Linked DNA regions of Homo sapiens. The protein of the gene in region 1 purifies or fractionates together with the protein of each later gene. This does not show direct contact. Each region holds a gene or a part of one and is shown on either strand. Other genes may lie near its edges.

The links. Proteins that work in one complex are often made in the same cells at the same time.
Region 2: the proteins of SSUH2 (region 1) and PITPNA purify together in Homo sapiens (affinity purification with mass spectrometry; one large-scale study listed by BioGRID and IntAct). This does not show direct contact.

What each region holds. Positions count from the first base shown.
Region 1 is NC_000003.12:8,641,864-8,646,275, forward strand, and holds the start of SSUH2 (protein SSUH2 homolog), read right to left. Parts: upstream 2,936-4,412; 5' UTR 2,896-2,935; coding exon 2,868-2,895; intron 1-2,867. UniProt on the Homo sapiens protein: Plays a role in odontogenesis.
Region 2 is NC_000017.11:1,535,293-1,538,792, reverse strand, and holds part of PITPNA (phosphatidylinositol transfer protein alpha isoform), read left to right. Parts: intron 1-3,274; coding exon 3,275-3,352; intron 3,353-3,500. UniProt on the Homo sapiens protein: Catalyzes the transfer of phosphatidylinositol (PI) and phosphatidylcholine (PC) between membranes. Shows a preference for PI and PC containing shorter saturated or monosaturated acyl chains at the sn-1 and sn-2 positions.

The DNA of each region.
Region 1 (4,412 bases):
GGGCATTCTATGAACAAGACTTCTGGGAGCAGAGCTGGCCTGGGTACCAAGGGAGAGTCCCAGCTGCTCAGCACTGGGTCAGGGGTGGTGATGGCGATGTGGCCCCAGACCAGGGCTCTCACTCGTGATCTCAATCCTGCCCCTGTGGACGGGGGTCCACAGGAACTCATGCCCAGGAGTAAAAAGGTACAACCCATGTCTTATAGTCCTAGACCAGAAAAGCTGCCTCCTAAAATTACCAGAGACTGTATTTATAGCCCATCTTACTTGAAGAGGCTTTTGCTCACCATTTCTGGAAAAGGTTTCAGTCTGCAATCAAAGAAGTAAGTTCTATCACAAAAGATATGGTATATAGAATAAGGGAGGGGATTTTTTTCTCTTCCGCTCTGTGCTAGGACACTGCACTTTAAGAAAAGAGTGATTACCTCTAGGATTGTTGAAGAAACAGGATCTGGTTAGGCTAGAAAAGAAAAGACTTACAGGGCTCTTATCTTAAACAGGGAACAGACATTCTGAGTAGACTTGCAGCCTGGAATCAAGACCAAAGAGTAGAAGCTCCAGGGAGAGAGATAGCGATTCAATGTAAGAAAGAATTTTGGACAGTCTCGACTATAGAAATAGAACCAGACCATCACTGGAAGTGGTCCAGCCAAAGTAGGAGATGCTGCCCTGGTCAGGGATGCTGTAGACAGCCAGCACCTGAAGGTGATGGTCAAAGGCCTCCTTGAGGAGATTTGCACATGGGTGCCACATCCCAGAACGTTCCTATCCATGCACTTTTGTCCCAAAACGTATCACTGGAGAAAGGTTTTCTCCCCCTGAAGTCACTCATATTATAGACCTGAAAAGTGATGGGACAACACTATAGTGCCTGGAACATTAACTCGATTGGATAAAATGGGCAATCACCTCTCCCCTAAACAGGCACATTTAAATTATGTAAGGCCTGTAGCAGGCTCCCTTTCTGACACTTGGGGAAAAAAAAATCTACCTGGTTTCTGATTTCATTAACTTTTTCTAAAAGTTTCCCTGGGTGCCTCTATACCTTGCAGTGAACCCCAAGTGCTCACCTGAGTTCCATCACATCTGAGACCAGCACTCAGGACAACCCTATGAAAGACTCAGGGTTCCTAGACTTGTAATGGGCCCAAAGACTTCACTTTTCTCTCACCTTGCTCACCAAAAGGCATGAGGTCAAAACAGGAACTTCACAGAAGATAATATTTCCCATTAATAGCAGTTTACTTTTAAAGTTCTGGGGACCTGATCATTTCGTAGAGTCAATATTGACTCCATGTCTACTCTGGGCTGGTGATGTATTAGGCACTTTGTAGCCAACGAATCTTTGATCAATCCTGCAAGATGACACCATCCCTTTAAAAAAAATTATGGGAAATGAAATTCAGAGAGGTTAAGTGACTTGAGCAAAGTCACCCAGAAACTAGGAGGCAGAGCATAGGTTTGAGTCCAGATCTGACCTAGTCCATTGCTACTATGAGAAACTCTAATCATAAATGGAAAGACTGCTAATAAACAGTGTTTTGAAGAAAAAAGATTGCATTAGAATGTTATTTGAAGCTTATTAGAACAAGAGTATGGATATACAATTTCCAATATATTAGAGGTCAGATTAAGCCCTCCTCCAATACATGCTAAAATATCTCCAGGCAGTCTTTCACTTCAATATGAAAAAAGATTCCAACAAAATTTAAATTGAGCTCTCTAAGTTTAGTATAGGTTAATTTCATATTCTGCTTCAGGTCTAAAACTTAAAGCTTTAAGATATCAACATTAAAGACAAGAAAGAGTGTTATGCCTGCAAAGAAGCTCCAGTGTCATCAAGTCTGGTGACTATGAAGTTGTGTTAGTGTCATGGATCTCTCTGGATTCAAATGAAAGCTATAGACCTCTCTCTACATCTCCCAAAAAGCATGCTCAAAAAGCATTTTGCCCACACCCTCATGGTCCTCAGATTGAGACCTAAACCAATCTCGTTTTATAGATGAGAATATTGCAGCTCAGAGAGGTTAAGTGATTTGCCCAAGATCACACAGCCAATTCAGAGCAGAGCCAGGACTTGAACCCTGGCCTCCCACTTCTCAGTCTCATGCTCTTCCCCTCCCCACTCCCCGCCACCGGCAACCACCACCCCTCTGCACTGCCTGTTTCAAATTCGGATTCAAAAATTTCCCTTTTTAAAACATAGCACATTTCTTCCTGAAATACCATTTCCTTCATGTTTTTAAATAGCTCTGAGAATCCATTGTATTTCTGTCCCGGTAGTGACAGGATGGGGTCACCTGGGCTATGTTTCATAAGCGATAATGAACGAACTGGCCGTTTGCTAGAGAAAGATCACGAGTGAAGCCTTTTCCCGACCTTTCTGTAGAGTTAACATCATCTAAGAACTGAATCCAATTGTGATTGAAATAAGAATCCTGAAAATCTCACTTAGATTTGGCTGGGAGCAGGAGACACTGTCAACTAGAGAAAAGAAGAAAAAGGGAAAAGAATATAAGGTTTGCATGGTGTCACTGTGATAGAGAGAAAAGTTCTCAATTTCATCTTTCACCTTCCTTCTCCATTGTCCAAAGGCTCATAACGGAAGAAGAGATCGCAAGCTACAGGTAGGCTTTACACACGAGAGGAAGGAAGGAAGGAAGGGGTGCTCTCGGCAATCCAGATGCAGACCCAGGACTGCATTTAGGGCAGATGGAAGAGTTCACACAGTGCTAGCTACAGAGCTTATTAGAAAAGACTATGGATACATAACTTCCAACATATTAGAGGTCAGATTAGGTCCTCTTCAAATGCAGGCTAAAATATCTCCACACAGTCTTCCGTGCCATCTTTGAGGCTCTACTTACTGTCATCTTCATTCAGATCCCTGTCCATGTTCCAGACGTCCTGCCAAAGAGATGTCTGCCCTTCGAGTGTGCTTGGACCGATGTGCTCTGATGGACCACCCTCAGGCCCCTCCCAGAACAGCAGGCCCATTGTTACCCAGTTGGAATACAACAAAGGGAAACATCTATATCGTTCATCATAGCAGCTGCTCTGCACCCAATCCACCGGGTTCTGGGAGCTCCTCTTCCACAAGAGCCTTCTACTGACCAAGCTCTTATGGATGCTTCTAGTTACTCATGTCCTCACTGCACCCCTTTGAGAGGGGCACTGGTATCATGCCCATTTTTCTGAGCAGGATGATAGATTCAAACCCTCATCAGTCTGACTCTCTAGTCAGAGTGCCTGACAACTGAGCTACATCGCCCAGCTGTAGGAGGCAGACTCCTAAGTATTGTAGGGCGCATGCAGAAAAAGGTCATAACCACAAGAAGGTTACCTCCCCAAGGGGGATATTATATACAGATACTCAGCCTGGGCAGGGCCTCTGAGATCTTGAGCATCACCAGCCTCATCTCCCTGGGGAAGAAACAAAGCTGGGATTGTGAGGCCACACTGCAAAGCCACACGGCACCTCATGGGCAGAGCTGGCTCCCAACCCAGCCATGTGGGCCACTACTGTCGCCACACCAGCCTCGCCCACTGTGAAACATCTTTGGATTTGTAAAAGGTCTTTTCCTAAACCTTTTCCATTGGAGTTTGACACCCCTTCAACCTCAGCCCTTGGAAGATCATCCTCCTCTGCATGAGTCTAAACACAGAACTTGTGAGCTGGTCCCCGAGGCTCTATGGGTCCCACCCCCTCCACTGCATCCTTGGCAATCACTCCTCTGCAGCTGAACCTGGGGTTCTCTGGCCAGGGTGATGAAACTGCCCTACGCCTTGACTTCCCCATCCCAGCAATGCACGTGGGATGTGCCATGATATTCCTCAATGACAACCTGGGATTGCCTTCACCAGGGGAAGCATCAGGACTATTTTGTCAGTGTCCTAAATGTCGGCCTGTCTGGGATGGCCACACTGCACAGAGATGGCTCCCAGCTGCTCCATAAAGAGCGTGTCTTTATTCTCTCTACTGCCTTCACCCTCGTCACTGACTGCCCATCGCCGACAGCATGCAAGTGCAACCTTCAGCAGTATTCACAATTTCACAAATGCTTCTTAGGTGACTCAGTCCTCACAAATCGATTTTTATGGCTGGTAGGAGCACTGGATTTCTGATACTTGAGAGTCATATAAGTTTCATTACTGTGTATACACAAGGAAGACCATGATCCTGAGGAACAAATGTGGTCTTTTGATGCCTTTATACATGAAGCAATGATTTTAAGCCCTTATAGAATTGTCCCCATGGTAAATGGGGTTATCATGAATTTGTATGCCTTTCTCTGCGTGTATATTTTACCCTAAACATCTGTGTGAGCATCCATTGCTGTATCTGTTTAGGTGTGTGTTTGCATGTGTGTATATATTTGAGCCAAAACATGATAAATGATAGATTAATGACA
Region 2 (3,500 bases), on another chromosome or scaffold:
ATACCCAACTTGGCACAAAAGGAAATTCTGATGTGTCTTGCTTGTTTTATTTTTAAAAGTGAGTATTAGGAGATTTCTTGTCTTGAGTTGGGGATGCCACCAGAAAATTAGTGGCCCAAATTTGTGTGCCCTGTTTGGCCTCTGAAAATTATTACTGGACTAAGTAGGTATTGTAGCTAGAGTATTTTGCCCTGCTAAAATGATGCTTAGCCTGAAAAATCGGAGCACCACTTCTCAAATTTATTTTTCCAACTCAGTAATTAAAAAAACATTTACTTCCTGCCTACTGGGTTGTGGAATATTGTCAGGATCTCTGGGTTCCAGGTGAGGGATGCAGAATGCAGGGAAAGACAGGTCCCCTGCCCTCCAGAAGTCGGTGGCGCCTTTTCAGAGTAACACACACTGGAGCAGACCCCTGGAAAAGGACAGTCCACTGGTGGACCATGACCTTGGTCAAAAGAGGGACCAGGTCTGGCTTGCTCACTGTTTTGCACCCAAGAAGTATTTGCTCAGGGAATGAGGGGGTTAGATTCCTCCTCATTCATTACCATTCTTACTAGGCAGAGGCCTCATTGGGATTAAAAGACAGGAATGTAACTCTCTGCCCACTGATAGGGAATGTGTGTTTGCTCTTTGTATCCCAGGGGTGTGATACCTCTTTCCTGTGGTCACTCTGCACTTAAGATATTTTGGGGCCTGGCACGGTGGCTCACGCCTGTAGTTCCAACACTTTGGGAGGCCAAGGTGACCGATCATCTGAGGTCCTGAGTTCGAGACCATCCTGCCCAACATGGTGAAACCCCATCTCTACTAAAAATACAAAAATTAGCCAGGCCTGGTGGTACGTGCCTGTAATCCCAGCTACTTGGGAGGCTGAGGCAAGAGAATCGCTTGAACCCGGGAGGCAGAGGTTGCAGTGAGCAGAGATCACACCATCGCACTCCAGCCTGGGCGACACAGCGAGACTCCATCTCACACACACACACACACAAAGTTATTTTGATTTGTGCATTTCCGAAAAGATATAAAAACCATCTTGTGCTTCCTTGCCCAATATCCCAACCCCCACCTTCAAAACGTTGGTGGATTTTTCAAAAAGCTTTTTATGGAAGTTTAACATATACAGCAAAGTGAATATAAGTATGCAGCTTGATGAATTTTCTCAAACTGGATACTAGCAAAAAGTATGATTCTTTGAGTATTTTGTCAACTCTGGTTGATCTGTGTGAGTGGAGGGAAGCAGTGATGGTGAATATTTATTTTTTAAAGCACACATAAATATAATCTCCTCAGAGGCTGGGCACATTGGCTCACGCCTGTAATCCCAGCACTTTGGGAGACCGAGGCAGGCATATCACTTGAGGTCAGGAGTTTGAGACCAGCTTGGCCAACATGGTGAAACCCCGTCTCTACTAAAAATACAAAATTAGGGCCAGGTGCGGTGGCTCACACCTGTAATCCCGGCACTTTGGGACGCCAAGGTGGGCAGATCACGAGGTCAAGAGATCGAGACCATCCTGGCCAACATGGTGAAACCCTGTCTCTACTAAAAATACAACAGATTAGCCAGGCGTGGTGGCAGGTGCCTGTAATCCCAGCTACTTAGGAGACTGAGGCAGGAGAATCGCTTGAACCCAGGAGGCGGAGGTTGCAGTGAGCCGAGATCATGCCTTTGCACCAGCCTGGGCAAAAAGAGTGAAACTGTGTCAAAAAAAAAAAATACAAAATTAGCTGGGCGTGGTGGCGCATGCCTATAATTCCAGCTACTTGGGAGGCTGAGGCAGGAGGATCACTGGAACTCAGGAGGCGGAGGTTCCATTGAGCTGAGATTGTGCCACTGCACTTCATCCTGGGCGACAGAGCGAAACTCTATCTGAAAAAAAAAAAAAAAAAAAAAATCGGCCGGACATAGTGACTCATGCCTGTAATCCCAGCACTTTGGGAGGCTGAGGCATGTGGATCACCTGAGGTCAGGAGCTTGAGACCAGCCTGGCCAACATGGTGAAACCCCGTCTCTACAAAAATACAAAAATTACCCTGGCGTGGTCGCAGGCGCCTGTAATGCCAGCTACTCAGGAGGCTGAGGCAGGAGAATCGCTTGAACCCAGGAGGTGGAAGTTGCAGTGAGCTGAGATCGTGCCACTGCACTCCAGCCTGGCCAACAGAGTGAGATGCTGTCTCAAAAAAATAAAATAAAAAAATAAGGCAGGGCGCGGTGGCTCACGCCTGTAATCCCAGCACTGTGGGAGGCCAAGGTGGGCGGATCACGAGGTCAGGAGATCGAGACCATCCTGGCTAACACGGTGAAACCCCGTCTCTACTAAAAATACAAAAAAAATTAGCCGGGCATGGTGGCGGGCACCTGTCGTCCCAGTTGCTGGGGAGGCTGAGGCAGGAGAATGGCGTGAACTTGGGAGATGGAGCTTGCAGTGAGCCGAGATCGCGCTACTGCACTCCAGCCTGGCCAACAGAGCGAGACTCCCTCTCAAAAAAAAAAGAAAAAAAAAAAAAACTTCTCAGCTTTGGGAAATACTTTATGAGAGAGAGAAATTTATTATCTTTGTTATTTTTGTTAAGTAGATGCTATAAGTTTGTATCTCCTGAGCCCACATTAGTCAATGTAGAGGGACAGCTGAAAATTAAACTTTTGTTGTGGTTAATTAACACAGGAAATTGACTGCATTATAAATCTGTGAAGTGAGACTCACCAGTAGTGGATAGGTTCCATACACTGAACATTTCCAGTAATGATTTTGTTAAAACAAGCCAGAGGGAGATTGCACTGGAAGATTTAAGGAATGACAGCCGGGTATTCTGAGCGCTGGCTGTATTTTAGAGTCACTTGCAGAGATTTAAAAAAACAAAAAACAAATCTGTGCTGCCGTCACCTGCAGATATTCTCAGTCACTGGGTTTTAGTTGGAGTGACTCAAAAATCTGTGTTTTAAAAAGGTCTTCCCTGGTGATCTGGATGCTCACCCCAGGTTGAAAGTCTCTGTCTTCAACACGGTAAATATGTGCCTGCTCAGACAGTCTGGTGATACTTTCACACTGGCAAAATGGAAAACAAACCCTATCGGAGAAAATCACATAGAACTCTCCTCTGAGGCTAATGTAAACAGTTCTACATCTTGTTTATAACATTTTCCCATATTTGCTTTGTGCCATCAGCATCAAGATCTGGTATGGAGTGAATGCTAATGAAAGATCTGTTCTCCCCATCTCTCACTCCCTCTCCCACTCCCCTCCAACCCCAATTCCACAATTTCTCTCAGGATTACAAGGCAGAGGAAGACCCAGCAAAATTTAAATCTATCAAAACAGGCCGAGGACCCTTGGGCCCCAATTGGAAGGTACCATTCACACCTTCACTGCCAGGGGGCTGGGCAGCATGTGGGTGGGCCGCTCCCTGTGGAGGAGGGGCATGGCTGGGGTGAGCTGGGGACGGCCTGAGGTCTGCCCGTTGTTACTTGCGTACCCATGGGTATGTTTCTAATGCAG